5 separate regions of the Homo sapiens genome follow, and regions 1, 3, 4 and 5 are each linked to region 2. Evidence: fine-mapped expression QTL. A gene starts in region 2. Each other region holds a variant in brackets. All regions are shown on one strand. Distances are from middle to middle.

Region 1 (5,102 bases), 31 kb after region 2:
CTCTTTGGTCTGTTCCAGGAATGGTATCCCCACTACTTTGTTCTGACCAGCAGCAAGATCTACTACTCTGAGGAGACCAGCAGTGACCAGGGCAACGAGGATGAGGAGGAGCCCAAGGAGGTGAGGAACCAGCTCAGGTCTGGGGGCTGGGCCAGGTCAGGCCTGGGCCAGGGTCACAGTATCTTTGCTGTTGCCTTCCCCTGACAGGTCAGCAGCAGCACAGAGCTGCACTCCAATGAGAAGTGGTTCCATGGGAAGCTAGGGGCAGGGCGTGACGGGCGTCACATCGCTGAGCGCCTGCTTACTGAGTACTGCATCGAGACCGGAGCCCCTGACGGCTCCTTCCTCGTGCGAGAGAGTGAGACCTTCGTGGGCGACTACACGCTCTCTTTCTGGTAACACTTCCCATGCAGATGCGTATGTTCAGTCAGCGTGTGTACACAGACATCACATCACCCAGAGATAATCAGTTAACATTTGAGCCTTTGATCCAGGACAATAATTAGGCTTTACATGGAACATAATTTCACCTACATACACACACACACTCTCTGTCTCACCCCCCCCCCATACCCCTCCCTTTTCGGTTCATTTGAAGCCCACACCTTTGGTTCATGTGACTGCCCACACCTGAGCTCCTCAGGAGATTGGCCTCCCTCCTTGAGGCTCCCTCCTTGAGTTCCACCCTCATTTGGGGTGGAACTTGGTCTTTGGGGCCCTGGCCTGTTTTCCCCAGCCTCCCTCACTCTGTGTCTTCCACAGGCGGAACGGGAAAGTCCAGCACTGCCGTATCCACTCCCGGCAAGATGCTGGGACCCCCAAGTTCTTCTTGACAGACAACCTCGTCTTTGACTCCCTCTATGACCTCATCACGCACTACCAGCAGGTGCCCCTGCGCTGTAATGAGTTTGAGATGCGACTTTCAGAGCCTGTCCCACAGACCAACGCCCACGAGAGCAAAGAGTGAGGGAAGGGCCTGGGGGCGGACAAGGCAGGGCAGGGCCATGGGTGGTGCTGGCCGGGCCTGACTCTGCCTGTTCTCAGGTGGTACCACGCGAGCCTGACCAGAGCACAGGCTGAGCACATGCTAATGCGCGTCCCTCGTGATGGGGCCTTCCTGGTGCGGAAGCGGAATGAACCCAACTCATATGCCATCTCTTTCCGGTGAGGGGTGTGGCACTGGGTTGTGGGGCCTTGCTTGGGTCTGAGCTGCCCTGACCCTGTGTGACTGTTTTGTCCTTGTGAAGGGCTGAGGGCAAGATCAAGCATTGCCGTGTCCAGCAAGAGGGCCAGACAGTGATGCTAGGGAACTCGGAGTTCGACAGCCTTGTTGACCTCATCAGCTACTATGAGAAACACCCGCTATACCGCAAGATGAAGCTGCGCTATCCCATCAACGAGGAGGCACTGGAGAAGATTGGCACAGCTGTGAGGGGGCTGTGGTAGACGGGGCATGGCAGGGGAGGCAGGAGAGACCCAGAATCTTACCAGTCTCTGGATGTGTGTAACAGCAAGACCTGGTGTGTTGTAGAAGTTCGTGGGAGGGCCCCTGACTCCAGCTGGGAGCCACAGTGTGGGTACCAGGAGGGTGTCTGCAGGAGGGGACATCTGAGCAGCATCTTTAAGGATGGGGACAGGCACATAAGCAGAGGGTTCCTCATGAGTCAAGATGTGGAGTGAGGAGGTTCTGGGGCTCACACTGGGAGAGGTGCACACAGTGGAAACTCATCCACCTGGGCTTGGCCTGGACTCTGTCCTAGGGCAGATGAGATGAGGCTACCCAAGAGTGGTTGTGGAGCCTCCGCCTGGTGGATGGTATGGAGGGCAGAGCCACAGGAGGTGAGACCAGTGAGGGAAAAAGTCAGGACCCATGGCAGCACAGCTGGTGATAAGGGCCCTGGACAGAAGGAAGGGGTCTAGGACCAGAAGATCAGTTGAGAGACTGCTGTCGTCAGTAGACAGGGCTGGCTGGGGAGAGAGAGGCCTGTTGTCCACTGGCACCTGGGACTCAAGTGATGGAGAGGAGCGGCAGGAGGAATGTGGGGAGTGGGAAGGCTTTTCCTGACTTTGGGCTCAGCAGTGAACCAACAAGCCACTGAACTAAAGCACTGAATATGGGTAGTCTGTGAAGGGCCCACCTGCACATAGCTCAGAAATACTTGGGAGTTTGGGCATTTAGGACCTGAGAGATTTTAGAATCCTGGGCTGGGCCTTACATGTAAGAATGTGAAGAAAGGAAAGGGAACAGTGAGGCCGGGCCTGAGGCCTCTGAAGCCGTCTCTACTGAGGTCGAAGGATCCCTGTGGATCAGGTGCAAGTTTGCTGCACTGGGGGAAAGGGAAGCTGCTCCAGAAACCAGTAGCTGCTTTCTACCTCTGGGCTCTGGGGCATTAACATATCCCATTGTGTCCTGTTTCCAGGAGCCTGACTACGGGGCCCTGTATGAGGGACGCAACCCTGGCTTCTATGTAGAGGCAAACCCTATGCCAACTTTCAAGGTACAGCTCAGGCCTCTGGGCATAGGAAGCTGGGGAGGGTCCCCAGCTGCTTGGGGCTTCATTTCTGTGTTCTGGGCCATCTGTGGTCTTTGTGGAGAAGTGGTGGTTGTGGTTTTCCGAGGCCCAAGAGGTTGTGAGAGATG[T/C]GTGGTTGGTGAGCGACCGCAGGTCTCCCAGGGCCGACCCACTCCCTAGCCCCTACCCCTTAAGTCAGCAGTGACCCTTTAAACTGCTCCTGTGGGTGACCCCTGTTTCCTTCCTGGGCAGCAGCGGGGTAGGAGCTGGGAGGCACACTGGCCACTCATTCCCCGGCCTCATGGAGCCCTGTTACACAGGTTCTTTTTTGTTTTGCCTTTTTCTCTAAAAAGGCCTGGGCCCTATTTCTCACCCCCTCCCCTCCACAGCCAGGGGACCTGGAAGGAAGTTTTTCTTTCCACTTCACAGATGAGTGGTAGGGTCCCATCCAGGCCCCATATGCTTCCAGGTCCCGGGGAGGCACTCAGGGCCACTGCAGACCCTGCCTTCTTGGCCTGCCAGCCCTGACTCCTGGGAGCGGATTCAAGGTTCTCCCTGTGGCCCAGGGTGGGGCTTAAGGTTCCACCTGGGTCCCGAGGTATTTCACTGGCAGAGGCCCTGCCTCTCTGATCATATCTGTCCTGGAGCTTCCCTGCAGGGCAGTAACAAGAACTATAACTAGGGCCTGTTGATGGCAGTGTCATCTCCCACTGGCCTGACCCCAGGCAGGGAAGCCCAAGCACATGTGTGTGTGCACATGAAGCCCCAGGTTGGCAGTGGCAGGGAGAGCCTTTCTGCTCTGACTGGTGCTTCTCACCTCTGCAGTGTGCAGTCAAAGCCCTCTTTGACTACAAGGCCCAGAGGGAGGACGAGCTGACCTTCATCAAGAGCGCCATCATCCAGAATGTGGAGAAGCAAGAGGGAGGCTGGTAAGCCAGTGGTGTGGTAGGCCCAGAGTCCAAGGGCCCCAGTGGAGCTGGGGCCCCAAAGACATGCATTTGTGATGTGCTTGTCTCCTGTGTGCACCAGCAGTGCCTGCCTCACCCTGGCTTAGGCATGGGAACCCCTACCAAAGGATACCCTCCTCATGGGAGTTCGGGGTGGTTGCTGGAGGTCAGCACCCTGTGGCTCCCACAGGTGGCGAGGGGACTACGGAGGGAAGAAGCAGCTGTGGTTCCCATCAAACTACGTGGAAGAGATGGTCAACCCCGTGGCCCTGGAGCCGGAGAGGGAGGTAAGACCAGAACCACCTGAGTAACAGCATTCCCTATTCCCAGATTCTCCTTGGCATGCCCCCATCACACAGTCCCAAGCACGCACGTGCATGCACAGACACCTGTCACATGGGCTGGTCGCACAGCCCATGTGGCCATGCACGTAGTCTCCCATATACCTGTGCTACATTTGGCAGTCACAGGTACACCCACAAGATGTATTTGTCCCATGCACACGGATATCCCCTCACACACATATGCAGTAGCCATGCTGACCATTGGTGGGCTTTGCTTCCCACAGCACTTGGACGAGAACAGCCCCCTAGGGGACTTGCTGCGGGGGGTCTTGGATGTGCCGGCTTGTCAGATTGGTGAGCTCCCATCTGTTTCTCTTGCCCACTGTTCCCTAGGGTGAGATTCTTCTTTGTATCTCTTTCCTGCTCCTAGGGAGGAAGCTGATGGCTGAACCCCAAAGTCTGCCCTCACTCCAAGCTCTCCCCATGCTCTGGACATCCCCTTGACACCCTGGGCTCCCTTTGTCACTGTCAGCTTTGACCCCTGCATGTTTACCTATGCCAGGCACTGGGGAACCCGTCAGAATCAGCAGAACAAAGTTGATGCTGCTGGTTGGCTGACATCCCCAGGCCTAATGGGTTGTACCACAGGGATGTGACAGAGGCTTGGAGATGGGGTGGAGAGGGAGACACGGCCTGAGGAAGAAGCATGAGTCAGAGCTGAGTTGGAACACTGGCTCCACCACAACCAGCAGTGACTTGTTTGAGTTGTAGCGTCGTCATCTGTCAAATGGGCCAGCAGAGTAGTCCTTCCCCTCATGGGGTGTGGGAAGGAGGAAATGGGATGAGATAGAACTCATTTGAGCCAGTGCCTGCGGTGTGGAGTGGGGTGGAGGGGGTGAGATGTCTATTCCCAGCTGTTATCTGCTCTCGCCCTCCCAGCCATCCGTCCTGAGGGCAAGAACAACCGGCTCTTCGTCTTCTCCATCAGCATGGCGTCGGTGGCCCACTGGTCCCTGGATGTTGCTGCCGACTCACAGGAGGAGCTGCAGGACTGGGTGAAAAAGATCCGTGAAGTGGCCCAGACAGCAGACGCCAGGGTGAGATTCTGCTGGAACCTTCTGGGGGGCAGTGTGTGGGCCCGTCAGGCAGCTGAGGCCTCCAGCTCCCAGCACAGGCCCCCTCAGAGCAGTGGGGCAGCCGATGGCCTATGCTAGATAGGCCACAGCCCCTGCCTTAGCTAGGGATTGAGAAGAAACAGACACATAAGATGCAATGTGGTGTGTTTAGGTTGTGTTGAGTTTGAGATACTGATGGGTCGTTGAAGTGGGTCTGCTTAGTGGGCAATTGGATACACAAGACCA
Region 2 (5,102 bases):
CAAAACAGGATCAGACAGCCAGAGAGGGGCCCCATTCAGCCCCCGTCTGCCTTCCTGGTCTCATCACTCCCTGTCCCCTCCTCAGTCAGGAAACTCTAGCTTTGTAACCCTAAATTCAACAACCTCTTCCTGGCCTCAGGGCCTTTGTACATGCTGTTACCTCTACTTGGAATGTACTTTTCTCCAACCCACCTTTAATAATTCACCTCGCCATCGACTCACTTCCTTTAGACCTCTGCTGAGGTCTGAAGAGATCTCGACCCAATGTTTTTCCTTCTAGCCCTCATCATAATTGTCTTTATGTAACAGAGTGTTTATTTAATGTCTGAACTCCCAGAGAGCTGGCGCTGTGTCTCTCTTGTGCTCCTCATGTTGTCAATGCCCAACACAGAGAAGAGCAGGGTCCACAGAACTTCAAGCCTAAGCCAGTTCAAGCCACACTCTGTGAGCACTCACGTTCTGCTGGATTCCCTGTGCCCAAGGCCAGCGGTGAGCATGCCTCCCCTCACCCATGCTGATTAACCAGATAGCCTCCATGCCCACTGACTACTGACCACCAGGACTTACCTAAGCCAGTGGATCTCCTGTGAGGCAGAAAACTCATGGAGTCAGGCCGACTTGGGTTCTAGTTCCCACCTAGTCATGTTATGTGGCTTTGGGGCAAATTGTAGAACTTCTCTGAATCTCTGTTTCCTCATCAGTAAATTGTGGACCATCATTCCTGATTAGAAGATAATTATGAGGATCAGGTGTGACCACAGGTGCACACCTTCAGCACAGGGTCTACGCTAGCTCCGTCCCGCCCACGTAAAGACCTGCCACTAGGTGGCAGTCCATCTCAGCTACCCCACCGCTCCTTACTCCACAGAGGCTGGCTAGGACAAAGGGTCTCAATGTCATGCTGAATTCTGAGCTTCTTAGGGGACGCACTTGAGGAAATCAACGTTAACACACAAGTTTCCACTACAGCAAGACAAAGTCAGAAGCAGCAGCCCCAGGTCACTATCCAGCTGAGTGGGTTGCCTGAGCACACGCTCTTACAAACTCTAGTCTAGTCCTACTATCTCACAATTCCCAGGAAGCCTGGCTCTTTCTCTGGCATCAGCTGGAAGCTCTGTTGGGCTTCTCACCTCTGAAATGCAGTAAGTTGTCCTGCTGTGCCTGGCAGCCGACCCACTGCCTGGCTCAACATGTCAGACAGGCTCCACCGCGACCGTGGGTGTCCTCAATTTTGGCGGTGCTGACAAGGGTAGATAGATTGCAGGGGTGAGTTTCAAGAATGGCTTCAGAAAGACAAAGAGTATGAATTATATTCCATAACCAGAAAAAGGCCTTGTGGCTGGAGAATGGAGAGTGAAGGATCACTTGTGAGAGATGAAACTGGTGAGATGGGCAGGTCATATAGAACCTGCTAGGCCAAGCAGGGAGTGTGGATTTTAGGTGCAATGGGAATTCACGGAGGGTTTTAGCCTGGATGTAGGGGATCATGATTTAATTTCATTTTAAAGATTTAAAGCATGATAAATCCAGGCAAAACCAAACTGATAGATCCAGGCAAAACCAAACAAGGTGAGTAGTCTGGGTGACAGGAGATGGGGCCTTCAGCTTGTGGGCTGAGTGACAAGGTCTTGATGGATTGGAGGTGAGGCAAAGGGAGGAATCAAAGTTAGCTGCAAGGTTTTTGACCTTCCAACTTAGAGAAGTTTAGCGCCGCGTTCTGAGAAAGTGAAGACTGTGGAAGGAATCGTTTGGGGAGGGAAGGCGAGCTGTCTAAGGGGGGGGGATGTGGAACATGCAGTGGGATGCTGGGGCCTGGAACGTAGGGGAGATGCAGGTTTGGAGTCACCGGTGCCTGTGTTGTTGGGCAAAGCCAGGGGAAAGGTCAGGTCGCCTTGGGATCTGGCCTAGCACTGAGTGCAGAGGAAGAGAAGCTTCTGAGATCGAGAGGCAGCGGCTACAGGAGGAGGAAGAAAGCAAGGCGGGGAAAACCAAAGTTCAGGAGAGCATTTGCAGGAGGGCGCTGCGGGGTAGGGTCTGAGTCGGAGCCCCGAATCGGACTCGAGTCCTGTCGCGTGGGGACGGAGCGTGCAGAGGCCCATGCGAGGGACAGACACAAAGGCCCTGGGAGCTGCAGGTCAGACCACTGGACAGCGCGGCCGCGGACCTAACGCCCCTGTAAGGGGTGCTCACGCTTGGGGGGAACTCTCCGAAAGAGAGGACCACTGAAAGCCACCCTGGCAGCAGGGGCGGAACAGACAGACGTGGGTCTGGCCGTCGCCAGAACTGCCTGCGGACCAGCCCCGCGCTGCCGGGGGGGCGGGACATGTCGGCTGTCCATCAGTGCCCGCGACCAATCCGCAGGCAGCCCCGCCCCCGCCCCTCCCGGGAGAGGGCGCGCGGAGGACCCGCCGCCGCCGGTGTGAGGCGGCCCGTCCTGGCTCCCTTGTCCGGGAAGCCCGCCCAGGTAACTGAGTTTGGCCGGGCATTCCCGGAGGACGCGCCATCCCCTCACGTCCCGTCCCGGTCGCTGCATGGGCGGTGTTCGGGACGCGGGGGCTGCGTCTGTGCGGGACCGCGGGGTAGCGGCCGCCCGTGCGAGTACGCCTGACTGACGCGCCGGCCGCCGGGCCTGCGGCCTGTGGGCGGGGCTGCCGTGCGTGACAGGGCCGCTCGTGGCCGCCGGGCTGTGTCCGGGGCCGCGTGAGAAAGCTCTGCGGGACTGAGGGCTGGGTGGGTCGACCGGGAACGGCGCGCGCTCCCGCCGCCATCGCGCCTCCGTCCCCGCCTGCGGCCTGTCTGGGGGTCGCGGGGCGCAGGCGCGGCGGGCCGACGGGCGGGGGTCCTCCCCACGGGTGCGCGGGCGCCTTTGTTCCCGGCGCCGAAGCGGGGTGGGGCCTCAGGGCAGCCCCGCCCCGCCGCGCTGAGGCCCCGCCCCGTGTCCGCCTGCAGGAGCCGCCGCCGGGTCCCGCTCGTCTGCCGCCTCAGCCTCAGCCCCAACCTCAGCCGCCGCCGTTGCGCTTGCTCCCGGGCGGTCCTGGCCTGTGCCGCCGCCGCCCCCAGCGTCGGAGCCATGGCGGGCGCCGCGTCCCCTTGCGCCAACGGCTGCGGGCCCGGCGCGCCCTCGGACGCCGAGGTGCTGCACCTCTGCCGCAGCCTCGAGGTGGGCACCGTCATGACTTTGTTCTACTCCAAGAAGTCGCAGCGACCCGAGCGGAAGACCTTCCAGGTCAAGCTGGAGACGCGCCAGATCACGTGGAGCCGGGGCGCCGACAAGATCGAGGGGGCCAGTAAGTGCGCCCACTTCCTGCCTGGGCCCGCCCCGCGCGGGGGTCGTGGGAGCCCGGCCCGACTGCTTGCACCCCGGCCGGCCGCCCCAGCGACTTGGGCAAACTTTCGGGCCCTCCCAGACTCCCTCCGGGCCCCGCCCCCGCTTCGTCTCGGGTGGTCACTGGGGGCGGGGGGCATCCGGGTCCTCGGTCACCTGACAGGACACCCCCCCTCCCCCAGCTGGGGGGAGTGTTCCAGGCGCTTTGCCCTGAGGCCTAAAAATCCTCGCGGGCTGGAGACCTGCGGTGCAGGCATCGGGCCCCCCAGACCCTGGGAGTGGTGGCGGCGTCGGCGAGGGGAGCTAAGGCAGTGGCCCCCACCCTGCACGGGAACCTGGGGCCTGACCAGACGGTCCCCGCCCACTCTTTATCCAGAAAGAGCAGTCTGTGAAACTCTCCGGGCCCCCAGGCTGGGCTCTTATTTGCAAAGGAATCTTTGGGTTCCCTAAGTAGAACTTAGGCAGATGTTGGGTAGGGCTGGTCTTGGAGCAGAGCTGGGCCTACTCATCTCCCTCTGGGGGAGAGGGAGGAAGGTGGTCTTGTTTGGTTTGGAGAAGCCTGAGAGAAGCCAGTGGCTGGAATTTTTTTTTTTTTTTTTCTGCTACTTTTGTCCCAAAGCTGGGTTTTGGAGGCCTATGTGGGTGGGCAGACACTCAATGCCAGGGCAGGGACTCCCCTTGCCCTGGGAAGCACGTTCCCAGGAGATGGGCCCCATAAAGGCCTGCCCCAGCGCCTTGGAGTCAGGTATTCTTCTCAGGAGTGCAGCTAGTTTGTGAGTCTAGCCCTTTGTCCTCTGTCCGGTGGCTTCAGGGAGCGGGAGCGGCTTCTCTTAGTTTCCTGCCTTTTCGCCTTCCCAGGCCTGAGCTTGGCTGCTTTTGCGCTGGTCTCTAGTGGGAGGAGGGAGTTGGGGGATTTTGAAAAACCCCAGATCTTTGAGAGTTGTTCCACTTAGCGCGTGCCTGTGCTGTGGTCGGATGGGCACTCTGCTCTGCCCTCCATTCCCCCGCCTCTCAGTGTGAAGAGATGGTGTGTCTGCAACTCTAGACTGGGTTGCTTCTTGCAGGGACCCCCGGAGACTAGGGTTAGAGAGACCCAGGCTCAGAACCAGGTCTGTGTGAAGGAGGGAGATCAGGAAGTGACACCCCAAGGGGGGGTCCCACAAACCTTCTTGGGTATGGTGTGCATGTGTGTAGATAGTTGAGGAGATTGGGAGGAAGGAAGGTCTTGTGGTGAGGCAGCCAACCATCCTCAGCTACAAACTCCAGATCTGACACAGATCTAATGCAGCTGCTCAACTTAGAAATGGCAGCCCCCTTCCTCAGTGCCCCCACTGACCCTGTCAGCCATTGGGAGAACATTTTAGTGACTTGAGAGCCTGTGGATTCCAAAGTAAAGGAAGAATCGACACTGCAAAGAGCTGAGATAACCCTGGGAACATCACTCAGGCATCAGGCTCCAGGCATGGTCCCCTTCCTTACTCCCTATGCTGTGTTGAGTTGGTGGCACTGGCTGGAAGTTCTCAGAGATCTCCTGGGTAACAGACTGCATTTTAAACCACGCATATTAGCAGGCAATAAATGTAGCACAGTGGTTGATGGCAAGTCTGGATTTGAAGCCCATATATTCATTGTGTGTTTCCCGGCCAGTTACTTACCTTCTCTGAGCCTTGATTTCCTCATGTGTAAAATGGGGGTAATAATATATCCAGTATATATGGTTGCTCCAGGATCAAATGAGACAATTCATATAAAACATCTAGCATTGTCTGACACATAA
Region 3 (5,085 bases), 46 kb after region 2:
CTGGCACTGGGAACACACAGATTGCAGCAGAAACCTGTTGGTTCCATTTGCACTCAGAGCAAACCAAGCAGCACCTTGATTGCCACTTTTCCTCCAGCCACTCTGTCAAAATCAAAACTGGTTGCCTCACCAGCCCTGGTGTGGCATGGCCCAACCATGTCCCTGCCGCCCCACTTAAATGGCCAGAGAAAACTACATGGTGGGTAGATGAGGTTGAAGCCTTGCTTGGGGAAGGGACTTGAGCACAGGAGAAAGGCTTGAGCTCCACAACTGCCCATTTGCTCAGACAATGGAGCTTTTCTGAGATCAAGTGCTCCCCAAACTACATGGGAGTAGCCCCCCGTGGTCTGGGCAGGCTGGCTGAGAGAGGTCTGTGCTCTCAGGTAAAAGGAGAGAAGGAAGCTGGGTCAAGAGACCCTGAAGAGGAGGGTCCGTGTCTGGAGTGAGGGGAACTGAGCCCTGCTGGCTACCTGACCTGGGTGGGCTGCTGGCTTTGCCCTGGAAGACTTGACTATGTGGGCCTTCATGTGTCTAGAGGATTTTTCTTCTCCAGCATATAACTACCTTGAGAATGGATGTGATATGTGAAAATTTAAATTTAATACAAAAGCACATCTGCAAATGGTGAGTCAAACTGGTGAAATCTCCCAGGTAAACTCTGAGCAAGAAAAAAGAGAAGATGACTTTAGGAAAATCCTAAACGAGGTTTGGTTTTAAAATTTTCTTCTTGGCTGGCTCTCCTCTCCTGCAAGTTGCCTTTATCCACTTGGGGTGTGATATCTGAACTGAAAAAGCTGCACCAATCTGAGGATATTGGTCCAAAAAGAGACAAGAGACCACGAGGCTCAAGCAGAGAGCATCCACACAGCATCCAACCAGAAAGGCCAGTGTCCTTCCTCCATGAAAGGCAGCCAGGGACAGATGTCCCAGAGCCAGGAGAGAGAGGGAGAGAACACAGGACCTGCCCCTAGGCCACTGACTGAGCAGGATAAAACCCACAAGGGCACATCTCAGGCTACGGAATAGAGAGATTTCCTGGTGGGACGGCCTCCCAAGGCTAGCTGGAGATGAGACCACTAGTACATGTGTGAGCCCGCAAGGCACTACCCAATGTTCTGTCCAACTTCCTCCTTGTGCTACTAGAGAGCACAGTGTGGAGTCCTTGTGTCAAGGTGCTTTGGTCCACCTGAACAGCCACCTGTCACTCAGCCAAGAGAAAGGAGCTTTAAGTTGTACAATCACTACCAAACCCCAAGGCCCTGGCAAGCCATCCAACTAGGGCGTTCTTTTTCAGGAACCCAAGATTCTCAAAAATGACACTCCTCCCCTCCCAAAATAAAAAAGCTCCTTTATAGTCAAAAACGAAAACAAGTAATCAAAATATACAAAGCATATGTATCAAATTTAAATTTCCTTTATCAGAATGATCATCTGGTTTCACCTTTGAGAACTCGATCTACAACCCCATGTAAAAAACAAATGGGTACAAGACATCAGCAACAAAAAAACACTAAAAGATGATTTTACTATCTCTGACGAGTCCAACTGCATACAGAGAAAAGGGATAAGATTAGCCACTTTTTATAGGCTTTTTCTTCAGGAGAGACTAACCTCACCCAACTCTCAACTCTGCAGCCCACAAATGCCTTCTACTGAAGGCAACAACACAATTTAACCCTTAGGCAGTGTGCAAAACCACAGTGAGCTGTCCTGTGACAGGGCTACATACCTGGCTGCTGCCATCCCACATCCCCCACTGCCACTGGGCTAGTGTGGGTGTGTCTCTGTGCACGACTGGCTGGATTCAGGGTTTTGCCCCCAAACCCTTGAGTACCTCCTACAATGTCCCTTTAAGCACCTGCGTGATGACTGCCTCCCTCATCATCGCTTTTGATCATCTTTCAAGGATAAGGTCCAGAGCATACTCACTCACTCTCATCCAACAGCAGAGGAAGAAGGATCTGTCCAGACTGCTGGGCTCCTTACATGGGCATTCTTGCCTTTTGTAGTGTAGCCCTGGCTGTTGGGCAGGGCTAACATCTATAAGAAAAACATACCAGGGCAGGCAGCACTGTACTTTTCCACCTGAAAGATGAGCTAGTGCCCATGGCTGGGTCACTGTAGGTCCTGCATGAACTTGTCCACCAACTGTGTTTTGCTGTTTGGGTTGTAAATTAACCGTGAATACAAGTAACCAAGAAAATCCTCTCCACAGACCAACTCTTCAGCCAGTGCATGCAGGGCTCTGGAGGTGATGCCAGCAGGATCTGGAGGTGAGGCACTGGGTGGTTTCTCAGACACCCGGAGATGGCTTCAGCCTGGGCCGCCCCAGCTGCCTAGTGCACTGGTGTCCCTCCAACACAGGCTACTCCCCCAACACCCATGTGCCACCAAGTTTCTCAACTGCACACGCCAGATGCGCGTTTTACGAGAATCAAATGAGTATTTATACTGTATATGTGTGTGT[G/GTA]TATATATATATATATAAATTAATCTGCACGTATATAAACACTAAAAGGAGAAATTCCAAGTGTCTGTTCTCTGAAGGAAAGCAATCACTCGCCATTCTTGGCAATTCCTCAAAGGTTTTTGAGACCAAACATCTTTACTCCCCAAATTAAGAATACAAAAATAGGCTGCAAAACTTGCCAAGTACTCACAAGTCCCTGTTTGAGACAAATAAGATGTGGTCCCTATTGGGACAGGGAGGGCAGAAGATGACACTTTAGAAGAACATGATTTTGGTTTCAAAAGCAAGACCTCTCCTGGAAGGCAGAAGGGGCCACCGCCATGCTTGTCCTTGGAGCCACATGAGCACGGTGCCCTGCCAGGTCCAGTTCCCTGGGTAGGGGAGAAGGACGGTCCCTAAAACACCACCAGTGCTTCTTGCCCAAAGCCCTTGCCCTCTCTCTGGGGTCTTCTAGCACTGTCACTCTGCCCAGCCCAGGAGGTGTCTGTGCCCACGAAGCCTGGTACTTGTGGCTTGGCACTCTGGGAAGCAGGTGGTTTCTAAGAAATGAGCGGAGCTACAGGTGGACAGGTCTTTAGTTCGCCCCTCTTTACCAGCTACTCTCAGAGCAACCGGTCTTGGGGAAATTGAGGATTTACCATTTAGAACAGCTCTGTAAGCAAGTTTTCTAATTTTCAAAGGCACCATTTCCTGTAATTTTCTCAATTCAAAAAAGGACATGAGGGTTAGGCTAAAGTAGAGTTCTTGTTTCCAAGTTTGGGGACATAAATATAAAACTTTAAAAGCATCCTCACAAGGACCAGTGATGCCCAGCACCCTTGGGCATGCATCCAGCACACCGGCCAGACCCTGGGGTGGGAGCCACGGGCACTCTGGGTGTTCTGCCAGGGATCTCTGCATGCAAGTCTTTGTGCTAAAGACCACCCTACCTCTGATAATTCCAAGAAGTCAACAAATCCCTCCAGCCTTCACCCTTACTAATGGGCCAGTGTGTTATTCCTTCCCAAACCATAGGAGGCTCTGAAATGAGTGTGGAGAAAGGGCTCTGAAAACCGCAGTGGTCAAAGCTTCAGGCTGTGGCTATAGATTTCCACTTACGTCCCTACCCCATGTCTTTTTTCCATCTTTCTCTCACTCCAAACATGTCTAGATTAAAAAAAAAATGCAGGCACATAGGTCAGCACATTAGGCTTAACAACAAATGTTTCTTTAGTTGATCTGATAACTGAAAAGTTATGGTCCATGATTCAAACTCCCATGAAAAAGCAGAATTACGGTAACAACTAAAGAGAATGGTAAAGCATCCAACGCTAATCACATTGCCAGTCCATTTTTTGAACTGAGGGTTACAGCAGGTTCTGCACTGAGTAGCCCACAAGGCAAAGCAAGCCTGACATGAAACGTAGCCGGTCATCACTTAATGCAGCAGAGATCTCTTCAAAGGTACTGCTTCCTTGAGGAACACAAAGGGGGCACAAAGGGGTTCCAGACGTAGCTTTGTGCCTATAACTTCCCTGCCTGACTGTGGAAGGTGAGGGGCACCTGTGACCCAGCAATCCCCAGAGAACAGACACAGGTCATTTTTAGAGATGACGTAACTGACAATGCACTGCTTGGCTAACCAAAGTTTCTACGTAATGACAGTGTTGATAATCTGATGTTTTATTTAACATATAGAGGTGGATGTATATGTTAAAAGCTTGATTCTGTGTCTATGAATATGACTATGAACTCTGAACTATTTTATCCATTGGAAGGTAAAGGAAAGGTCCTACATTGTGGGAGGAAGAACTGATGAGAACCCCATCTTGCTTGCTGCTTGCTTGGTGGTGGGCAGGCCGAGGGTAGCGGCAGGCTCTGGGCTGTCTGCGAGGATTCTGGAAGCTCTCCCAGGTGCCCAGCAGCCGGGCATGGGAACGGCATGTGGCAGCAGAGAGTCGGGTTTGGCTCTTCCACGTGGCAGGCGGTTTCCCAGACTGGCCAGTCCTTCACATTAATCAGATCAAATTCAGTCTGTTTCTGAGAAGAAAACACATGCCTGTCACTCTACGGCAGCTGCCACCACCTGCCCCCCAGGCAGCCTGGTCCTTGCTATACCAGGGTGGCATCACTGGCTTTGAGGACCTCTTAATTCCATGAGCAATGAATGGCCTTCTGCCACCCACTCCCCCACCCTCCAGCCTGAGGGAATGTGGGTTAAGGACAGGATGCTGGCTCAACCTTGTAAGGCCATCAGACTCTCTGAGAGACCCTGCTAAACCCTAGGCCTAGCAGCAGGAGCAGTGGTTTGGCCTCTCCAGGCCCACTAAATCCCCCTAGCTCCCCAGGCTTCCGCCACCACCGTCTCTGGAGTCCTGTCCTAAAATGCTTCATCCTGCCCTCTCCTTCCAGGCTCTCCAGAACATACTGTTCCAATATAATAGCAGCTGGGTCTAGTTCTGATATGTATTCTACTGATGTCTTCACTTCATTTGTAACTTGCAACCCTAACATCAAAGTCAAAGTAAGGCTGATATCAGAGAGGTTCATCATCTGTGATTCATAAAGAAATGGTCCTTAATTGCAGCTGGCTGAGAAAGCCATGAGAAACCAGGTACAGATAAACAGATTGGCCCTTC
Region 4 (5,102 bases), 32 kb before region 2:
TTGAGGATAGGGGTTGAGAAAAGGTGTGATAAAAAGAATTATCAAGTGGTGACAGTTGCACAACATTGTGGATATACTACTAAATGTCACTAGTGGTAAATGGTATCAATGCATATTTTACCACAACTTAAAAATGATCAAAATAACAGAGTTACTATTAAAAACATTTGCACATAAGTTAACATTTGGATCTTCTAAGCATACCGCACATACATATACTAATGCCACCATTTATAGATGAGTAAATTTAGTCTCTGGGAGGCCCAAAAATTTGCCCAAGATTCAGTGGCTAGTAACTCTAACTTAGATCTTCTTAGAATGTAACTTAGATCTTCAGTCTCTGCATGCTTTCCTGTGACATCCACTGCTAAATGTGGCCAGCTTTAAATGCCATGTTAAAGAGACTGAGCCCTTAAAGGACTTTGAACAGTGGAGTGTCTTGAACACAGCTTCACTTCAGCAAGATTTACAGGCATTATATGTAAATCACATCAGTAAATATGAACTGTTATAAATGCTGCAAAGGAAAAAGTACAGGGTGCCATCTGAGAGTATACCAGGGTACCTGATCCAGCCTCTGGGGTTCAGGGATGGCCTTTCTGAAGAGGTAACATTTAAAGGATAATGTAAAGAAAAAATTTTTTTAAATTAGTACCTGAAGATCTGGCTGGCCTCACTATATAGCTTCCTCTCCTGCCTCTTTCTTCCCTCAGAACGACCAAGCTCTTGCTCACCTCTGGGATTTCAAAAGGCTACTTTATTTTCTCTATTAGAAACACCCATTCTCCTATTCTTTCCAGGGATACAATCCTATTCATCCTGTAAATCTCATCTTAAATGTTAACTCTTCAGAAAGGCCATCCCTGAATCCTAGAGGCTGGATCAGGTACCCCGGTATACTCTCAGATGGCACCCTGTACTTTTCCTTTGCAGCATTTACAGCAGTGTAAATCTACTGGTGTGATTTACATATAATGCCTGTAAATCTTGCTGAAATGAAGCTATGTTCAAGACAACTCCACTGTTCAAAGTCCTTTAAGGGCTCAGTCTCTTTAACATGGCATTTAAAGCTGGCCACATTTAGCAGTGGATGTCACAGGAGAGCATGAGGAGCATACGCTCTAAGAAGATTGAAGAGTTACTAGCTGTTGGATCTTGGGCAAGTTTTAGGGCCTTTAAGTTTAAAAGGAAGCCACCAACCTGGGATTTAAAGAGGGAAATGACACCAGATTTGTATTTTGGAAACTCGTTACATAATTGATCATTCTGACTGCTGCTCTGCGGAGACTGGATTGGACACAAACAAGAAGTAGAGAGATCAATGGGAAGCTGTTGCATACTCCAGGCAAGAAACAGCGATGACTTAAGACAAATGATGGCAATGGGGATGGAGAGAGGTGACAGATACATAATGTATGCTGAGTACTTGTACAGGTAAGGATTAGAGTTAATTAATTGTTGGAGCCTCTCTGAGGGCTGAGATCCTTGTTAGATAGACCAGGTGAAATGCCTCAAGAGCAGAGAGCCAGTCAATTTTATTCCAGACAATATCCAGCTAACTGCTATACACAATAGACATTTGTGCAAGTTTCTGGATGATGATCATGGTAGTGAACCTAAAAGTCACCCAGAGTTAGACTCTGAACCTTATGCTCAGGAGAAAGTGCCTGACTTGAACTGCAATGGGATCCCAATAGGAGTCATTAAAGGCCTGGAAAAGTGGTGCCATTAGGAGAAAAAGAAATGATTTCTTGAGCTTGCTCTCAGTTCTCTTTTAGGCTGTCTTGTACTCAGCAGAATAGTGAGATCTTCAAAGGTTGGGGTTTGATAGTGCCTTGAATAATTTTTAACTTTATATTGCCAGCGGAAGAAGCATTCTCTTTTTAGATTTAAAAAATGTAGATACAAATATTAGGGGTTTTATTTTTAGTGAAACATTTCAAACATACAGGAATAGATAATTATGTAATGAACACTCGTATGTCCA[C/T]CATCTGGCTTTGTAAAATCTTAAAATTATGTCTTATGTGCTCAATTGTTTTATTTCATAAAAGATACTGATAAACATAGCTGAAGTCACTTGTATACCATTCACCTTCTTCCCTGTAGATTACTATGAACTCGGTCTTTTTATTCTCATACATATTTTTTGTATTTTTGCAGTATATTTATGTGTTCATAAACAATATGTAATTTTACAATATGTAACACACTAGTAACATACTAATTTAAAACTTGTTTTTAGTTTACAATATGTTGTAAACTATTGTAAGCTAAAGACATATTGTACAACCTATTGTAAAATAAAAACAGGTTTTAGTTTTAAATTAGGTATGTTACTGGGATCATTCTGCAACTTGTTTATTCCTCTCCAGCTTTGATTTTGTGGTTTTATTATCTTAACCTACACTTTTAATTAATCCATTTTATTTGTTACATGGTATTCTATTATATCATAAAAACTTATCTATTCTGTTGGTTTTTGTTGTTGGTCATTTGAGACCATGTCTTCGCTCTGTCACCCAGGCTGGAGTACAGTGGCGTGATCTTGGCTCACTGTGACCTCTGCCTCCCGGATTCAAGTGGTTTTGGTGCCTCAGCCTCCTGAGTAGCTGGGATTATAGGCGTGTGCCACCATGCCCAGCTAATTTTTGTATTTTTAATAGAGACGGGATTTCACCATGTTGGCCAGGCTGGTCTTGAACTGACCTCAAGTGATCTGCTCACCTCAGCTGCACAAAGTGCTGGGATTACAGGTGTTAGCCACCATACCCTGCCTCTATTCTCTTGTTAAGAGGCATTTAGCATGGTTATACAGTCTCTTGCCCTCATAAACAGTGCTGGAAGAAACACATGTTTCTTGTGTATATGAATGAAAATTTGTTTTATACATTAGATATTTCCAAATTGTTCTCTTAAGTACTTCAGTTTACATCATTACTCTCCTCCTCCCTCCCCTCCCACCCCCACCCACAACAGTATTCCTCTTTTTCCATATCCTTGCTAATGTTTCTAAAGTTTTGCTTTTTACATTTGGGTCTTAGATCCACTAGAATGTATTTTTGCATTGGGATGAAGTTGAAACCTAATATATTTTCCAAATGAGTAAACTGTTGTCACAGAACTATTTAGTTGTATTACCTCCTCTCTTGTATATCAGATATATCTACATATATGTCAGACTGTTTCTGGGCTGTCTGTCCTCTTTAATTAGTTCGTGTATCTGTTTCTGCATCAGTAGCATACTGTCTTAACTACTGTAGCTTTATAAAGTCTATTGAGTAGGACAAGTTTGTTTCATTCTTCAAAATTGCTTTGGCTATTCTTGGCCCTCTGCTGTTTCATATTAACTTTCAGATAAACTTGTCAAATTCTAATGAAAACTGTTGATAAACTTGTTGATTAACAAATTCTAATAAAAACTGTTGAGATTTTTATTGGAATTGCAATACATTTATAGATTAACGGAGAAAGATATTGACAATACAATTGAGTTTCCAATTCACGAACATGTTATACCTCTCCATTAATTCATGTCTTTTGAATGTATCCACCAATATGGTTTTGTAATTTTCTTCATAAAGGTTTTACATTTAAAAAATTCTTATTTTTAAGTGATCTTATAGTTTTTATTGCTAATGTGAATGAGATTTTTTTCCATTATGTTTCTGTTGGTTATTCCTGAAGTGGTAATGCTTATAATTTTGGGGTGTTGGTCTTGTATCTGGCAGCAGATACAAGAGGTGCTCAGAGTTGTTCAGGGTTGCTGAACTCTTAGTTCTAAAAGTGTCTGTCATTTGGGGTTTCTATGTAGATAATTTAATTATCTATAAAAACAGTTCTTCATTTTCAGTTCATATATTTCATATTTCTTTAAGTTTTAATTTTTATTTTTAAACACAATTATCCATAAAACCCTAACCCTTTCCCTAGTCAACAGCAGTCACAGCCAAATGTTTTATTAATTGCTATACTCAGTGTTTCTTGTATCTCATACCTTCTGGGGTTTCTTGTCTTGTTGAAATACACCCTTTAATGTTTCTTTAGTGAAGACCCAACAGTGGCACTCACTCACCTTTGTTTACCTGAAAATTTCTTTATTTTCATCTTAATTCATAGTCTGTCTTTTCTCCAGTCAAGGAAGTGTCTTATAGGGAAGATTCTGGTTTCACTATGCTGTATCCAGGGATATATATGTATTTATAGATAGACTTTTAATCTGAGGACTAATGTATTTTATCCTACAGTATTACCAATCATTATTTCTTCCATAACTTCTAGACCATTCCTTTTGTACTTCTTTTTTAGAGTCCTATTAGATGAGTGTTGACACTTTTCAATCTAGACATCTTTTTTAAACTATATTTTCATACTCTTTGTCTCTTTAGGTCTGATTTTTTAAGTTCAGGGGAATATTTCATTTTGGGTGAGTTGTAGCACTCACTTCCAATTCACTAATTCTAATTATATTTAATCTACAAGTTATTCCATCTATAATTTATTTCAATTACCACTTTTTGTTTTCAAAATTTCTAATTTTATATCTGATTTTGTTTCATTTTTGTTTTATAATTTCATGTTCTTTCTAGATTTTACATCTTTTTATGCATACTAAACATACTCACTTGAAAGTCTTTGTAAGATTGTTCTATAAAATGTTACCTGAAGTGAATTCATGTGCTAATTACTGTTGGCAGTTTTTCTGAGCCATTTTCCTTGTGTCTTTTGAAATTTCTGTTTGTAAGCCCTTTTAACTGGGAGGTGTTTTTTGCTTATGTACTGTTCTCTTTTCTTTCCCTTCTTCTCCTTCTCTGTTCATTACTTTTTGTCTTGGAGGGAGTCTCTTAGCCCAGCTCAGCCCAAGCTAATAAGGCCCCTGACTTCAAGTCCCCCCTTCTTGCATGGAGCAAGAAGTGATCCTCCTGTCTCAGCCTCCCAAAGTGCTGGGTAGGCGTGAGCCACCACATCCAGCCTAGAGCACTTACATTGCTACATATTTGGAGCAAACATAATTAAAGTATGACTTACTGTGACCCAGCAGTCAATAACAGATATGTTTTTGTAATAGAATGTTGAAGGGTGGTAACTGGTGGTTTTACTTCATG
Region 5 (5,102 bases), 130 kb after region 2:
AGACTGGAGTGCCGTCTCGGCTCACTGCAACCTCCGCCTCCCGGGTTCAAGTAATTCTCGCACCTCAGCCTCCCAAGTAGCTGGGATTACAGGCGCCTGCCACCATGCCTGATAATTTTTTTTGGATTTTTAGTACAGATGGGGTTTCACCATATTGGCCAGGCTGGTCTTGAACTCCTGACCTCAAGAGATCCACCTGCCTTGGCCTCCCAGAGTGCTGGGATTACAGGCGTGAGCCACCGGCACCTGGCCTAACCCTCCCAATTTATTACCATCCAAAGCTTTCCTAGACATTAGTTTAATATTTTATGTCTTTTTTTTAGTGTAAATATCTAATCTGCCATTTATATTCCTAAAGTGGCTATAAATTACCTTCTAGATCAAAGAGCTATGTTTGACAATGATTTTTAAGCCCCGCTGTTTAGCAGGCTTTTAACATACAGTTTAAGATACTTCCTCCACAACATTTTCCCTGTTAATCATTTTCAATCCAATCACATGATCTCCAAATCTACTTAATCCTCCTAACGTAAGCATTCTTCATTCATTCACCCAACAAATACTTACTGAGCATCTATTGTCCAGCACTGGTTTAGATCCTGGGGATAAAGTTCTTGCCCTCAATGAGGATTTCAGGCAGGGAAGGTACTGGGTGTGAAGGGAAGGCAGGGAGACAGCCAATCAAATTTATCTACAGTGGCTGGATGGTGATAAATGCTATAGAAAAAATAGAGAAGGATAGAGTGATTCCAGGGTATGGTAAGGTATCATTTTCAATTGAGGGTACCATACAAGGCATCTTTGAAAGTTTAACTTTGGAGCAGAAACCTGAAGAAGGAGGGCAGTAGCCATTTGGCTATCTGGGAGAAGATGATTCCAGGCAGAGGGAACAAGAACAATGGCTCCAAAGCAGGAATATTTCTGGGCAGACTGAAGCATGGCCAGCAGACCAGTGTGATGAAGCAGTCAGTATGAGAGTGAGCACTAGGAGATGTGTACGTAAGAAACTTGTCTTATGACATTTTTGGTTTAGAGGATTGATATATAAAGCCACTAAACAGTTTTACTCAATTTTAAGACTCAAAGTTAAATAATGATCAAGGTAGACTACCCAAGATTACGCCTGCAGCAATCCATTACTGAAGCATAGGGAAGGTGCCCACCACAAGACAGAAAGTTCCAGAAGTTACATTTGTGGGAAAATTCCCACGGGCTGGTGGTCCCCAGGCTTGTGAAGGAGGAGAGAGAGATGTTGCCATGGAGTTGCCTAAAGAAGTTGTACAGAACTTCCAGCATCACACATCATCAATGACTCTGCCTCCATTTCTTTCTCTCCTTCTAAAAATTTCTATTCAGCTTACTGGACAAAGTTTCTTAATAATGGAAAATAATGTAAAAGACATGCTTTATTTAAACAGCTTACTAAGGCATATCTATTTCATCAAATGAAGGCTCTATTTACAATGATTGTTTGCTAGTGTGCTTTGCTTTCCGTATTAAGTTTAGCATTAAAAAAAGTTTTCCCAATTTAAATTTTAATATGTTTTGTAACTGCTTTTTAATAGTCTACTGTGAATATATGTCCATCATTAAATACACTAGATCATTTTTTAAAAGGTTTCCTATTCCACAGATCCCAGAGATAAGTGTAGTGTCACATATATTGTAACCTGAGAATATGGCTTGAATAATTGGTATTCAAATTAGTTTTCTAGTTTTTCAAGTCAATCAAGTGTATGTTCTGCACTCAAACTAAAAGCTGACACTTTGACTCACCCTGCACATCATAGAGAGACACAACACAGGATACTCTTATGATCTCAATGGTCAACCTATAACAGATTCCTATCAGATGATCAAAGAAATCATCGAAGTTGTAGATTCAATGCAGATTTTTAGATTAATCCAAAAAAGAATCATTTGATCAAAGACTTCAGCAATAAAAAACAAGGGAGGAGAAAATAATGTTTAATAGCAATGCGAAGACTAAATATAAAGACTTCTGCATTACAAAGTTGTGGTAATTAATGTAGCAAGAAACTTGTGAAAACTCAGAAGCATGCTATTTACCCAAGAAACATACTTTTTCCTTACTTCATTGTTTTTTTCCAGTTTCCCTCTTCACTTTATGCAGTCCCACAAGCATCTCTAAAAGGTCACATGTTGCTTCTGCAGTTGCATTTCAGTCCTATAAAAGAAGCAGCACATCATCACTTTATGAGAAAACATTTTAGGAGGCTGAGTTATCCAATCTCATCAGTCTCCCTTCCTAATTCATTCGCACTAGAACTATACATAAACAGAAAAACCAGTGAGACAAAGGTGAAAAAGAGGTTATCAAAATACAAACTAGCAATTTGAAACTATTAAAATTCCTAGTAGAAATAAAGCAAACTCAATGGTCTCTGATAACAGATCAGAACAAAATCTGTAATTTTAACGCTCTTTCCACCAATGAGTTTCCATGTCTCTCTCCCAGCTAAGTTTGAGACAGCTTGGCAGAAATAATACTAACAGATGTGTTGCTTTGTAACTTCAAGGATGTGCTATTTTCTGATGTTCTTCCATTCGGGTTTTCCTGGTGTGGATTCTAGAGGCACAAAAATGGCTCAGACTGTGAGTTCCAGGCCAAGGAACTGTTTTCATCTCTGTCTCTGACCATTATTACCCCTATTTCATCATGGCACTTTC[G/A]GTAAATGAATGAGACAGTAACTATGTTTTCAACAGACAACCAGAGATGCTTCATGGGATCTTAAAATTACTTGGGAAACAGCTGTAAAACCACTACTTTTGAGTTCTTATTTCTTTCTTGAAGAATTATCTTTGATTGAGATGCCCATTAGCAGTAAAATGGTCCCAAAGCGAGTATACCAGAAGGTCTCAGAACTTCCAACAGACGTGTAGGCATTGTACACTAGACTCTAGTGTATCATGACTAGAGCATCATGACTACGAGCATCCATGAATGTACACATTTTTTTTGCCCCTCAAAAAAAAAAAAATCCCTCACCCAAGTGGCTTAACTTCTTAACACCAGCATCTTATGTCTTTAACATACACATATCTAGCTTTACACTGCATCAGGGATTGTTCTAAGATCTTTAAATACATTAATCCAATCCTTACAATGATGCTATGAGGTTGATTCTATATTCTAATCACCCAGATAAGGAAACTTGTTAGGTAAATTACCTAAAGAAAAGCATTATGTTAAGGCCGGGTACGGTGGCTCACGCCTGTAATCCCAGCACTTTGGGAGGCCGAGACGGGCGGATCACGAAGTCAAGAGTTTGATACAGCCTGACCAACATGGTGAAACCCCGTCTCTACTAAAAATGGCCGGGCATGGTGGTGTGCGCCTGTAATCCCAGCTACTCAGGGGGCTGAGGCAGAAGACTTGAACCCAGGAAGCAGCAGTTGCAGTGAGCCGAGATCGCACCACTGCACTCCAGCCTGGGCAACAGAGCGAAACTCCGTCCAAAAAAAAAAAAAAAAAAAGGCCGGGCACGGTGGCTCACACCTGTAATCCCAGCACTTTGGGAGGCCGAGGTGGGCAAATCACGAGGTCAGGAGAGCGAGACCATCCTGGCTAACACGGTGAAACCCTGTCTCTACTAAAAATACAAAAAAATTAGCTGTGTGTGGTGGCAGGCACCTGTAGTCCCAGCTACTCGGGAGGCTGAGGCAGGAGAATAGCGTGAACCCGGGAGGTGGAGCTTACAGTGAGCCAAGATCACACCACTGTACTCCAGCCTGGTTGACAGAGTGAGACTCCGTCTCAGAAAAAAAAAAAAAAAGTATTATGCACTATGCTGCTGTTCATAGTCAGGGGTACCTGGGCAAATATAACTGTGCAGTAAGCTACAGTCTCATCCATCTATTTCACTTTTTCTGCTTCTGTCCTGGTATGCCTAAAGTAGCTCAATGTCTACTGAATTAGCTCTTGAAAATTTCTCCTTATTAATAATTTACTGAGAAACAACTTCTAATTCTCCCTACCTTAAACCTCATCTTTGCTTATTTTTTGAAAATTATCCTTTGGGAGGCTGAGAAAAAGGATTGCTTGAGGCCAGGAGTTCAAGACCAACCTGGGCACCAGGGTGAGACCACAGTCTCTACAAAAGTATTTTTGTTTTTTGTTTTTGAGAGAGAGTCTCACTCTGTCCCCAGGCTGGAGTGCAGCGGCACTATCTCGGCTCACTGCAACCTCCGCCTCCCAAGTCCAAGCATTTCTCCTGCCTCAGCCTCCTGAGTAGCTGGGACTACAGGCACGCGCCACCACACCCAGCTAATTTTTGTATTTTTAGTAGAGACGGGGTTTCACCATGTTGGCCAGATGGTCTCGATCTCTTGACCTCGTGATCCACCCACCTCAGCCTCCCAAAGTGCTGGGATTACAGGCGTGAGCCACCATGCCCAGCCTACAAAAGTTTTTTTTAGAAAAATAGCCAGCATGATAGATATTTTCCTATGCTTGCCAGATCCCTTCTAACTTTAAAATTGCAACACCCTTACTCAACCAAGGCATTAGAGTTCAGTTGATTGGTTGATTCAGATGATGCCAAAAGCTATGGGTTCAATCCACTATAAACCAGTTAGCTTTGTTTGCTTCACATCTACAGATTTTTAGTCTGGATGGCATATTTTGGATCATAAGAGGAAGCAGGTAGGAGTGTGGAAGACAACATTTGCTGGAGAAAAAAGTCTCCAAAAACAGCACTGACTGTGGGCCAGAAGCAACAGCCTCATTCATAAAAAAAAAGCTTCATAATAATTGGCAAAACACTTCTAGCTTTCTGAGTAAGACGCTCTTCTCAGATCATTTGCCAGAATATAGCCTCAAGCTCCTCCTTCGAAAAACAAAACAGATGAGATACAAATAAAAAATTAATGTTTTTCGTTTTTGCACAGGCTCTGCTTGACTGATCTGAATACAATTTTCTTATTCCTGACACCAAGGTCACTGACAATAAAAAAAAAATTGAAATGATTTTAGAAAGTATTACAAAAATCTCTAGGAGTGTAGCTTACAAAATCACCAGAAAAACTTGACTGCAATTCCATAAGTATGTCTTAGATTCTTTTACAATTCCTTTAAATTT

The links. PIP is the estimated chance that this variant, and not a neighbour inherited with it, causes the effect.
Region 1: its variant is the best candidate, but not a certain one, in a credible set for the expression of PLCG1 in whole blood (TOPMed, PIP 0.90).
Region 3: its variant is the best candidate, but not a certain one, in a credible set for the expression of PLCG1 in whole blood (INTERVAL, PIP 0.88).
Region 4: its variant is the best candidate, but not a certain one, in a credible set for the expression of PLCG1 in whole blood (TOPMed, PIP 0.66).
Region 5: its variant is the best candidate, but not a certain one, in a credible set for the expression of PLCG1 in whole blood (INTERVAL, PIP 0.61).

The regions. Positions count from the first base shown.
Region 1 is chr20:41,165,432-41,170,533 of GRCh38, forward strand. PLCG1 (phospholipase C gamma 1) reads left to right here. Exons shown (of 32, transcript NM_002660.3): 15 at 19-120; 16 at 208-395; 17 at 763-963; 18 at 1,045-1,164; 19 at 1,248-1,428; 20 at 2,421-2,498; 21 at 3,336-3,439; 22 at 3,648-3,744; 23 at 4,026-4,095; 24 at 4,681-4,838. It overlaps MIR6871 (microRNA 6871), which reads left to right and starts at 3,592; the gene lies at 3,592-3,647. The variant T/C (reference allele first, on the strand shown) is at 2,642.
Region 2 is chr20:41,134,572-41,139,673 of GRCh38, forward strand. PLCG1 (phospholipase C gamma 1) reads left to right here and starts at 2,972. Exons shown (of 32, transcript NM_002660.3): 1 at 2,972-3,287. The coding sequence starts at 3,071. LOC124904903 (translation initiation factor IF-2-like) reads right to left here and starts at 2,942. Exons shown (of 2, transcript XM_047440629.1): 1 at 1,131-2,942; 2 at 1-721. The coding sequence starts at 2,768. The coding sequence ends at 2,187. It overlaps PLCG1-AS1 (PLCG1 antisense RNA 1), which reads right to left and starts at 3,429. Exons shown (of 7, transcript NR_109889.1): 1 at 3,143-3,429; 2 at 1,131-1,240; 3 at 568-721. RefSeq lists enhancers at 1,487-2,271, 3,056-3,840, 3,762-3,861, 4,010-4,089 and silencers at 2,242-3,231, 3,352-3,611.
Region 3 is chr20:41,180,716-41,185,800 of GRCh38, forward strand. It overlaps ZHX3 (zinc fingers and homeoboxes 3), which reads right to left. Exons shown (of 4, transcript NM_001384317.1): 4 at 1-4,486. The coding sequence ends at 4,476. Among named protein-coding and RNA genes, the nearest start is that of MIR6871, 14 kb to the left of the region's middle. The variant G/GTA (reference allele first, on the strand shown) is at 2,468.
Region 4 is chr20:41,103,020-41,108,121 of GRCh38, forward strand. All of the region lies in intron 13 of TOP1 (DNA topoisomerase I), which reads left to right. The region is part of intron 4 of PLCG1-AS1 (PLCG1 antisense RNA 1); the gene reads right to left. Among named protein-coding and RNA genes, the nearest start is that of PLCG1, 32 kb to the right of the region's middle. The variant C/T (reference allele first, on the strand shown) is at 1,988.
Region 5 is chr20:41,266,896-41,271,997 of GRCh38, forward strand. ZHX3 (zinc fingers and homeoboxes 3) reads right to left here. Exons shown (of 4, transcript NM_001384317.1): 2 at 2,095-2,188. Among named protein-coding and RNA genes, the nearest start is that of ZHX3, 48 kb to the right of the region's middle. The variant G/A (reference allele first, on the strand shown) is at 2,692.